Linked DNA regions of Homo sapiens. The protein of the gene in region 2 purifies or fractionates together with the protein of the main gene of each other region. This does not show direct contact. Each region holds a gene or a part of one and is shown on either strand. Other genes may lie near its edges. The genes, in order: CA10, FHOD1 and TARS1.

What was found.
Region 1: the proteins of FHOD1 (region 2) and CA10 purify together in Homo sapiens (co-immunoprecipitation; one large-scale study listed by IntAct). This does not show direct contact.
Region 3: the proteins of FHOD1 (region 2) and TARS1 fractionate together in Homo sapiens (co-fractionation; one large-scale study listed by BioGRID). This does not show direct contact.

The regions. Positions count from the first base shown.
Region 1 is NC_000017.11:52,152,113-52,155,765, forward strand, and holds part of CA10 (carbonic anhydrase-related protein 10 precursor), read right to left. Parts: intron 1-3,653. UniProt on the Homo sapiens protein: Does not have a catalytic activity.
Region 2 is NC_000016.10:67,230,482-67,234,134, forward strand, and holds part of FHOD1 (FH1/FH2 domain-containing protein 1), read right to left. Parts: coding exon 3,176-3,653; intron 1,714-3,175; coding exon 1,558-1,713; intron 1,358-1,557; coding exon of another isoform or gene 1,339-1,357; coding exon 1,156-1,338; exon of another isoform or gene 1,155-1,155; intron 1,069-1,154; coding exon 949-1,068; intron 869-948; coding exon 707-868; intron 311-706; coding exon 120-310; intron 26-119; coding exon 1-25. UniProt on the Homo sapiens protein: Required for the assembly of F-actin structures, such as stress fibers. Depends on the Rho-ROCK cascade for its activity. Contributes to the coordination of microtubules with actin fibers and plays a role in cell elongation.
Region 3 is NC_000005.10:33,450,931-33,454,583, reverse strand, and holds part of TARS1 (threonine--tRNA ligase 1, cytoplasmic), read right to left. Parts: intron 2,244-3,653; coding exon of another isoform or gene 2,145-2,243; intron 1,296-2,144; coding exon 1,172-1,295; intron 1-1,171. UniProt on the Homo sapiens protein: Catalyzes the attachment of threonine to tRNA(Thr) in a two-step reaction: threonine is first activated by ATP to form Thr-AMP and then transferred to the acceptor end of tRNA(Thr).

The DNA.
Region 1 (3,653 bases), on a different chromosome or scaffold from region 2:
TACGAAAAAATTCCAACTCAACTGTCTACAATCTCAAACAGGCTACAAACTATATAAAGTACAGTGCTAGTTGTAGACATGCAACAGAAATTTAAAATCCAAAGAAATGTTAGAATTTCAAACAAATTTTAACAAAGAATCCATTGAACCGTTGCAAAGATCCTTAATACAAAAACGAAAGTCACAAAGTGAATAACCATATTAGGACACTTCATATTCTCTCAATTCAATAGCTCCCTAAGTGGGCTCATCCCAACTTTCCAGTATCTCCCAAAGTGAATTTTTTGTTTCAGTTGGGACATTCTTTAGCGTACATCCTCTTGTTTCTATTCCTCCTTTTTGATGATGAGGTCCCCTCTGTCTCTTTCATCCAAACCTCCAAAATCAATCTAATATACTCCTTTTCTTTCATGTCTAAACTTCTCCCTTCTATACAATTTATGCCAATTATTAAACAATTAGACATTATTCCTATTCCTTTATATCACAATGCATTTTAGCATTACAACTTTGCATTTATAATAATATCTTAACAAATAAACATTACTCATATTACTTTATATCATTCTAAACTATGTGTATGTATCTCAACTTTGCTTCTATAACTATATCTTAAGTATGGATCATATATAGTAATGACACAGATGCTTTACACTTGCATAATGCAAAAAATATTTATTCAAGAATCACTCTCTGAAGTTTCCCTCAGCAATGCTTTGAAATAGGCAAAGCAAATATAATTTTTATTTTACAGATGAGGATTGAGATTCTGAGAGGTAAAGAAAACTGCCCAAATTTATAAAGGTAATGAAGGTAGAGTCACGTTGAAGGATAGGTCTTCTGATTTCCATACTCTTTCTATAATGGCTTGCTATCATACACATTTATGATACCTAGATCTCTTTTTGACCTTAGTCCCAAGTATGTAATGCTTAATTAAGGTGATAAACTGAGACATTAGTTACTGACTTAGGCTAGTAATCAAACCCCTCTCCCCAGCCAAGGGACTGGGTATTCACATCAACATTTATTTTTTCCCTTGGGATTTCATACAACTCCAAAAGACTTTCTTGACTCACTATCTGGAGAGTTTTATCTATGATGATGGTTATCTGTCAGTAACTGGGCTATATGACATCACATGGGAAACTGGATTTAAAGAAACCACATTGCTAATGAGATCATCAGATAAATAGTCATTGTAAGGGTGGGGCTTTTTATTTGATGGGACATTCTATTTCAAGCCATATTGAAAGCATATGTCGTTTGCCAGTGTTGAGGCACTTTAAAGTTGGGTCTATACTGCATTGTAATATACAACTGAAAGAAAAATTCGCTGATCCCCTGGGTAATAAGTACTACATGGTTTCCAGGTAGTTTAGTAAACTTTCCAAGCCTCAACTCCATATTGGACTCATAGGGATAAAGTGGGTTACAGTTATGACTATGCACCAAAGCTTAATGCTACCAGTCTCATTTGTATGAGAAGGAAAATTAAGAGACTTTTCAAAATTATTTAGCCAAGGCTTCCTGGAAAATAGGGTTTGTGCTCAATGTTATAGATGTGCTTGCTGATGATGGTTTTCTTTTTGCTTTTAAACAAGTTGATATGGAAAAAGGTAAAAGCTCTACTCCACCATGAACCAAGCCTATACAATGTCAGATTTGTAGGAAATAATGACATTATTGCATGCTTACTATGTGGTAGAAACTGTGCTGTGTGAAAATCATTGGACATAATATCTCATTTAGTTGATAGAACAAACATGTGACACGTGTACTGTTATCTCTTTTCTACACATAAGGAAACTGAAGTTATGCCATTTTAATGTTAAGATTAGGAAAACAGTGTAGGAAATATTCCTTGCTTGTAGAGATTGCTGATCCTAAGATGCTAGAGGCATTTGGGTAATAGCCTCATCTGTTTGATTGACAGGGTAATGTACAACTCAAATGCTACCTTAATTCTAGCTCTAAATTGTAATCATCTAAAACTTTTACTTCCAAATTCTCTAAGACTTCAATTCATTTAACCTAATTTATTCTTTCAGAGACATCAAAATAAAAAATATTAAATAAAAATATTTGAAAGGAATCTTGAACCAAAACATAAATGATATACTGAATTTTGACTCAGGTAGACCTGGATGTGAAACCTCTAGTCTGAAGCTCTGTGGGCTTTGGTTGCTATATCTATAAGATTATCCCACAAATTCTAAGAATAGATGAATTAAATATGTGCAATATATGTACAATGTGTGAAAATACCACATAATTCAAATGGTTATTGATGTTATTATTATGAATAAACTGACAAAGAAGTAAAGTTACATAAGGAGGAAGTAGGATGCATTGTAAAAATTAAATCAGGCAGCTCTCGTTTGACCAAGAAATTTCTCTCCTCGTGCTGCTAAGCATACATTCTTGCTGATCTGAGCTGCTTTGGTAGGAAGGGAATGGTGCTCTTGCAGTACACGGAAAAATCATTCTGGTTCTCTCTCTCTCCCTCTCTCTTTCTGTCTCTGATCTCTTCACAGACCCTGGATGCCTTACATTTTCAGAAAAGTGAGATCTGAGTTTAACGGAAAGCCAGAGGAACTCCCAAATCATGCCCTTTAGCCTAGCTATGTTGCATTAAGTAGCCAAAGCTGATGTGATCTCACAAATAAAAGACATACATGCTACTGACCCAGCATCTAGCTAAGCCTGGCCAAACAGTCTCATTTTCCAACAGTTTCATCAAAACCAAATTATTAGTGCAGAACCACCAAATATGCCAAGCCCAGGTGTCTGTACTTTAAGCAATATATCCAAATAGGCCCAAGGAGAAATTTGGGGGTGGGTTAGAGGAAGTGTTGGAACCTTTGGTTAACAAAACACTAAGCTACAAAGCGCCAATGTTTTCCTGAAAGCAAATGCCACCAAATGAAATTCAGTCAATATATCTTCCACATGACAAAGCTACTACCAACATTTTCCTTCTGTAAAGTGTTTAGACTACAGACTTTTACTAGCCTTTTCCAGCCTGGTGTTTCTCAATAATGAAGCCAACTCTATCAATGCTTCAAGTATCAATGTCTGGTAACTCTGTAAGGATTAGCACCCACTTAGTGGTCAGGAAAATTCATTCCAAGATGCTAAAGAGGTGCTTTGTTTTTAATATTTTTAATTTAAGATTTAGTAGATTCTATGATCACAGGGTTATGTTCCTTTCAATAGAGCTCAGTCATGAGTAAATTAAAACTGCAAATCATGGAGACAGAAATGAAAGATCCACTAAACTCTCTCAAAGCCACAAATATTCAACCTTAGTGCATTGCATTTCCTATACATCCTAAGGCTGCCAGATGGAAAAAGAATGGAGTCTGAGTCTCCCAAACTGTAGCAATTGTGAGTCATAATCATATTACTAATAATAATTCTCACATACATGGGCATTACTGAATGAGTGGCTCTGCTTACAGGAGGATGAGGCCACCCTGACCATGGAGAAGAAATGGCCTTTTAAAGTTTATGGATGTGTAAAATAAAGAGTATATGATGTTGCATCCCTGCCTAAATGTCTTCATAAAGTGCAAATTAATGCAGATCCTAACTAGGCATTTGGAACGCTAACCTAGTTTTCTGTGTTTAGCTAATAGCTAGCAATTTTG
Region 2 (3,653 bases):
CAGGTAGAGCAGGAAGGCATGGAACCTAGGCAGGTCAGAGTAGGGAGGGACAGTAAGTCCTGCTTATTGTCTGAGGGAGGGTGGTGGCCGTCCTGCCTCTCTTGGGTCCATGCCCCTACCTATTGCAGACACGGCGGTGCACTATCCTTAGCATGGCAACACGGCGGGCACACTGGTCCAGGAAGTGGGTGAGGCGGGCACGCAGGGCTGGGGCCAGCTCATGCTTGGCCAAGCTCCGCAGGCTCTCCTCGGCTGCCCGGCTCCGGCGCTCCAGCTGCCCCAGGTTCTCAGTCAGCTGTTCAAAGTCCACCTGAGAAAGCAAGGGGGTGCACATACTGTCCCCCCACACCCTGTAGACAAGACATGGCCCGAGGCTGCTTCTGGGCCAGAGTGGCCAGCTTGGGCCCTAAGGACACAGACATCCAAATCTCATAGACTAGTGCAAGAGACACAAGTCCATCTGATGTGAATGGGGAGCAGAAGGTTTACTGGGGGAAGTGGCAGTTAAACAGACCCAAAGACTGAGTAGGTGTGGCCAGGCCAATAGAGGAAAGAGCATTTCTGGCAGAGGGCATAGCTCACACCCAGGTGGCTGGAGCAAGCCCTGGCACAGCAGCCCAAATGGGGAGAAGGGGGAGGAGCCAGGCCCAGGAAGCAGCGCTCCTCATGCCTTGTCCGGCCTTGGTTGATTCTGGCAGGTGCTAACCTTGGCACAGCGGGTCAGGGCAGGGATTTCTGAATAGAGGTCAGAGGACTCAGGCCGGGTCTGGAGCACTAGGGAGCAGAGATGGTGTAGCAGTGACTGTCGACGCACCGTGTCCTTCACCTCTGACACCTTCTCCAGGTAGCTCAGCTCAAAGCCGCTGCTCTGAAAGGACCCTTTCTGAGCCTGGGCCTGGTTGGCTCCAGAACCCTGACTCCCCCTAGTCCCCATGTACTCTCACTCACCTGGGAGCCATTGAGGAAGTTGCCCACCGCTAGGAGGGTAGCCAGGATGCAGCGGAAGGTGGCATTCTGTACCAGCTGTTCCATACCCACTTTCAGGTCAAACAGTGGCTCAGCAATTTCCTGGTATGGGAGACCAGGGACTCTCAGACTACATGGTCATGATGCTTACCTGTCCCTACTGACTGTCCCACTCCAAGACCCAGGTACCCGCTCCATGCTGTCATAGTCCAGCTTGAAGGCCCAGAGTTGTAGACGAGCAGCGAGGCCGCCAATGGAGGCAAGAGTCATCAGGAAGTTCTCGGCTGGGCCCAGGGGTATGTCAGGGTTGGCCAGCTGGGCTTCCTCAATCTTCTGCCGCTCTTCCTCCGTGGGCATCATGGTCAGTAGCTTCTGAGGATGTAGCCAGAGCCTGACATGGCCCCCTCAATGCAGGCCTGAGGCCTGAGGCATTGGTCTTGACCCCTCAGTCATCTAGGGGAGGCCCCAGTGTCTGGGGACTGCCCTGCAGAAATGCCAAGCCCATGCCCACCACCAGAGGGACAGGAAATGCCCACCTACCAAAGGAGAAGGCCAGACCTCCCCCCAACACCCATAGCTGGGTGACCTCACCTCAATGCCATCCTTGCTGACAGCAAACTCATCAAAGTTGAGCAGAGCAGCCTTAATGACATGCACAGGTGGCAGTGTGGTTAGGCCGATGTTGATGGCGTTGCTGCGCTTGGGGTCCAGCACTGTGGTCATTGTCCGGCGGCCCTCTCCAGCTTTCTGCATGGTTGGGGGAAGGGCAGTGTAAGACTGAGGAAGGGGGCCTGACGCGGTGGCTCACGCCTGTAATCCCAGCACTTTGGGAGGCCAAGGCGGGTGGACCACGAGGTCAGGAGATCGAGACCATCCTGGCTAACATGGTGAAACCCCATCTCTACTAAAAATACAAAAAAAATTAGCTGGGCGTGGTGGCGGGCACCTGTAGTCCCAGCTACTCGGGAGGCTGAGGCAGGAGAATGGCGTGAACCCGGGAGGCGGAGCTTGCAGTGAGCTGAGATCACACCATTGCACTACATCCTGGGTGACTGAGCAAGACTCTGTCTCAAAAAAAAAAAAAAAAAAAAAAAGACTGAGGAAGGGACTAGCTGGGACAGCAACCTCAGAGGGCACTCCAAGGCCCTCCTCTAGATTGCCAAATGATCCCACAACTGACAAACTGGCAACCTGGAATGTGTAAGTCATGGGGATGAGCTTAGATTCTTTTGAGACAGGGCCTGGCTCTACCATCTAGGCTGGAGTGCAGTGGTGCCATCATCGCCCACTGCAGCTTATCTTCTGGGATTTTCCTGCCTCAGCCTCCCAAGTAGCTGGGATTACAGGCGTGTACCACCATACCCAACTATTTTTTTTTTTAACATTTTTTTTTCCGCCTCCCAGGTTCAAGCAATTCTTTTGCCTCAGCCTCCCAAGTAGCTGGTATTGCAGGCATGAGCCACCACGCCCAGCTCATTTTCATATTTTTAGTAGAGACGGGGTTTCACCATGTTGGCCAGGCTGGTCTCAAACTCCTGGCCTCAAGTAATCTGCCTGCCTTGGCCTCCCAAAGTGCTGGGATTACAGGGGTGAGCCACCATGCCCGGCTAATTTTTTTTTTAACATTTATTTATTTTTATTTATTTAGTTATTTTTGAGACGAAGTCTTGCTCTTGTCCCCCAGGCTGGAGTGCAATGGTGCGATCTCGACTCACTGCAACCTCTACCTCCCGGGTTCAAGTGATTCTCCTGCCTCAGCCTCCCGAGTAGCTGGGATTACAGGTGCCCGCCACCACGCTTGGCTAATTTTGTGTTTTTAGTAGAGACGGGGTTTTGCTAATTTGACCAGGCTGGTCTCGAACTCCTGACCTCAAATGATCCACCTGCCTCGGCCTCCCAAGGTCCTGGGATTACAGGCATGAGCCACTACACCCAGACCAACTTTTAGTAGAGATAATGTCTCACTATGTTGCACAGGCTGGTCTCAAACTCTTGGATTACAGGTGTGAGCCACCATGCCCGGCCACATTTAGATTCTAGTTGGGGCACTGCTGATCCCTTGTTAGGAGACCTTGGACAATTTCCTACTCCTTTCTTTGCCTTGGTTTCCCCATGTGGGAAGTGAGTGACTAGCTCCAACAGGTCAGATCCTTAAGCTCTGATTCCCTCCTGCCTCCCTTGGGGCTACCTTGCAGATGAGTGGATTTACCTTGGAGGGCAGCACCTCTTTGGCACGAGACTCAAAGAGGTGTTCCAGTCGGGCCGTGTCCACTGAGACAGGGTCCAGTGAAGCCCAGAGGGTGGCGCAGGGCCCAAAGCGGCTTGCAGAGACTCCATGGCCCCCAGCCAGCTTCAGCTCACGCCAGAAAAGTTTTACTGTCTTCCTCTTAGTGGGGAGGGCTGAGCTGTCAGGCACTGAATGGGGAAGAGGGGCAGCCAGAGGTAGAGGTGGAGGTGGTGGGAAGGGGCCTTTGATGGGTGGGGGAGGTGGAAGTGGGGGAGGGGGGGGTACTCCCGAGAGCAGGGGCAGTGGGGGTGAGGGAGCTGGGATGTCTTTCCCAGCCTCCACAGACTCTACATTCAGCATGTCCTGGTCTTCATCCTCCCCTAGATCTGAAAAGTCCAGGTCCCCAATAGAGAGCCTGGGTGCACGGGTAGGGAGCTCCCAGATGGGCTCAGCCTTGGGG
Region 3 (3,653 bases), on a different chromosome or scaffold from region 2:
CACAGCACCATGTCTCAGACACTGTGATCTGGCCTTTAGCTGGCTATGGAACATCACTTAGAAATTACATGTTGTTACTGGCCCAAAACAAAGGTGGTACAACCCGACCCCACAACACAATGACAAAACACGAGGACAAACATCTGTACACTGAAATCAAATGGCAGTACTTGGTTTTAAAGTAATCACTGGGATGAGTCAGAATACACCCAAAGCAATGTTTTCAAGATTTAGTATTAAGGTACCAAAGTGACATTAAAAAATTCTCGTAAGAAACTTGAGGGCTCCAAAATACATTTGAAAACCACTAATCCACATACATAAGTGAACAATCATCACTAAAACAAAATACTTTGTCTCCCCTTATATGATACACAGCCATGGAGAATTAAAAAGAAAATCTTGTCATCACATGCAGGTTGACTTTTATAGTGTTATCCAGCAGATTTGCATCTTAAGATGAGAAAAAAATACAGAAATTATCCAATAAAGGCAGTGCTTTGAAGTAAGGTTCAAATTTATTTGTCAAATGTACATATCTTGCTAGAGTGTTCATAGCTTAGAGGCCAGGCACAGTGGCTCACACCTATAATCCCAGCACTTTGGGGGGCCGAGGTGGGCAGATCACTTGAGGTCAGGAGTTCAAGACCAGCCTGGCCAACATGGTGAAACCCCATCTCTACTAAAAATACAAAAATTAGCCAAGTGTGGTAGTGCGCTCCTATAATCCCAGCTACTTGGGAGGCTGAGGCAGGAGAATAGCTTGAACCTGGGAGGTGGAGGTTGTACTGAGGCAAGAGCGCACCACTGCACTACAGTCTGAGTGACAAAGCAAGACTCCATCATTAAAAAAAAAAAAAATTAAAATAAAATAGTGTTCACAGTTTAGAAAACAATTTTTACTTGCTTAATCAATGTTTAATACAATTCCCAAAACATTTTCCCTATTGAAGTGTCTAGTAATGAAAAGACTTATTCAGCTTCACCCCTTTATTTTCTAAGGCAAGCACTTTTATTATGTTCCCTAAATGAAGGACAAAATGAAGATTTCAAATATGACAGTGAGACAACAATAAATGTTAGCCACCCAATCGCAGCAGGACTGAGCTGGAAAAGACTTCAAATGTGAATCTGCATCCTAAAATTCAATGAATACTAATCAGCAACTTACTGCCTGAGCTTCCTCATCCTCAAACTTGAGAAGCTCCAAGGTACAATCTTCTTCCAGAGGGCGGTCCAGGTCCCACACAACATTATTTACTTTAGCAATAACGGTGTTGTCGGCCAGGCCTTGACTTAAAAAAAAAAAAAAAAAAAAAAGTCCACACATATATAAGTACACACGAATCTAATTTGAAAACAGGAAAATAAACACTATTTTTATTATATATTGTTTTTTTATATTGATGTATCTCTATTTTTCTGAAATATAATGATAAAAACAACAAATTCCAAAAATGTACCTAAGAACCTAACTGGAAGATCCTGAAAATGCAGAACATTATCATTTGACATTGAATGCCTCCTGTTTAAGCAGATATGGCAACTCTGATAAATAAGCACTATCAATTTCCAATGGTTTGAATAATCTTAATTTCTCCAACAAATAAGTTTTTTTTTTTTTAATTTTTTAGCGACAGGGTCTTGCTATGTTGCGCAGGCTGGCCTCCTGGCCTGAAGCAATCCTCCAACATCAGCCTCTAGAGTAGCTGGGACAACTGGCACAAGTCACCACACCGAGTTTTCTCTTAATACACCCACCTTTCTCTTTCTACAAAGCTAAGCTATGTAGACTCCAAAGGAAAAAAAAAAGGCCTACTAAATAACTTCTCTGTTCCTCTTCCTGCTTAAAATGTACACCAGATCCTTTCTTTGACAGACAATGCTAACCTCAGAATAAATTCTGCAAATGCCTATGATAATATTTATAACAAATATAGAGGTAAAATGAAAGACTATTTAATAAAACTTTCCATATAATGTGAGTAAAAACATTACACACCCAATATACAACATCGAACATAAAGTATCATCAAGTGATGAAATATCAGAGCACACAGAGTGTAAAAGCTACAGGAGTTCTGAGGAGGGAAAGCAGTACAGGTCAGAGTCATCTGGAAAGGCTTTGAGGATAAAGCACTCACAGGAAGAAAAGAGGAGGCCATGGCATTCCAGATGAGGGAATGGCCACAGATGCAAGCAGAGATGCAAGTGAAGAGAGGTTTTTGCAGGAAGCTGTGTGACTAGAGCAGAGTTGAGTAGGTGAGCCAGATTATACATCTAAATGCACAGCTAGAGAAATAATAGTCTATAACAGCCTGGACATCTCAACGAAGGTAGGCAACATTCTACACTGTGAAGAAAAAGTATACACCCTTTACACTGTAAATCTCAAAGAAACCTACCACTAGAAGGCTTTAAGCTAGCCAGGCTTGCTGTGTTGGTGGCTCTCTATGTCTAAGGGTTTACAACAAAATGTATACAACTCCTATCTGAGGATCAAGAGAAAAGAACCAAACAGAAAGTAAACAACAAACTCCTTTCTATTTTCAATGCTCCTACTAACTTTACCATAGGTTATAAACAATGTTTTCTTTCCTCCTGAGATCAGATGGAGTCAATAAAATAAATACATGCATTTCACAAAACATAACATGAATTTGGCAGAGAGAAATGTATTTCATCATATTGGTGTAAAACAGTTTTCAGGAGATTAAAGAACTGATAAAAAGGATAATCATATTCTCTATATTCTTTGGGAAGAACATGACTTTTATCTTATGATCCAATATGGAGCCCCAAGATTCTAAGAATAGAGTTACTCTGAAAATGTAGATTACACATGGGCCATACTGGATCATTTCAATTTTTCAAAGAAGGGTAAAATAATCTTTAAGATTTGTAACAAAACGGCCAGGCGCAGTGGCTCACGCCTGTAATCCCAGCACTTTGGGAGGCCGAGGCGGGTGGATCACGAGGTCAGGAGATCAAGACCATCCTGGCTAACACAGTGAAACCCCGTCTCTACTAAAAATACAAAAATTAGGCAGGCGTGGTGGCGGGCGCCTGTAATCCCAGCTACTCAGGAGGCCGAGGCAGGAGAATGGCGTCAACCCAGGAAGCGGAGCTTGCAGTGAGCCAAGATGGCGCCAATGCACTCCAGCCTGGGCGACAGAGCGAGACTCCTCCGTCTCAAAAAAAAAAAAAAAAGATTTATAACAAAACTTCAAAGAAAAACCTTTTGACGCAAATGGAACATGTCTTTTTTGTCCTTCCCTTTCATATTCACCACTAATTATGTGAATCTTTAAATAGCCTGTTATCAATGTTATAATTTTTCACAGAACAAAAAGTTATTCTGGACTTTTGTAAAAATTTCATAAAGTATTCTCAGTGCAGATCAGTGACTTAACTCCAGAGCTAAAGCCCATCAATGTTTTATGTAATTCAACCTTTTATTTTTTTCCCTGGAGACGGACTCTCGCTCTGTCACCAAGGCTGGAGTGCAGTGGCTCAATCTTGGCTCACTGCAACCTCCACCTCCCGAGTTCAAGCTATCCTCCCACCTCAGCCTCCAAGTAGTTGGGACTACAGGTGTGCGCCACCATGACTGGCTAATTTTTGTATTTTTAGTAGAGACAGGGTTTCGCCAT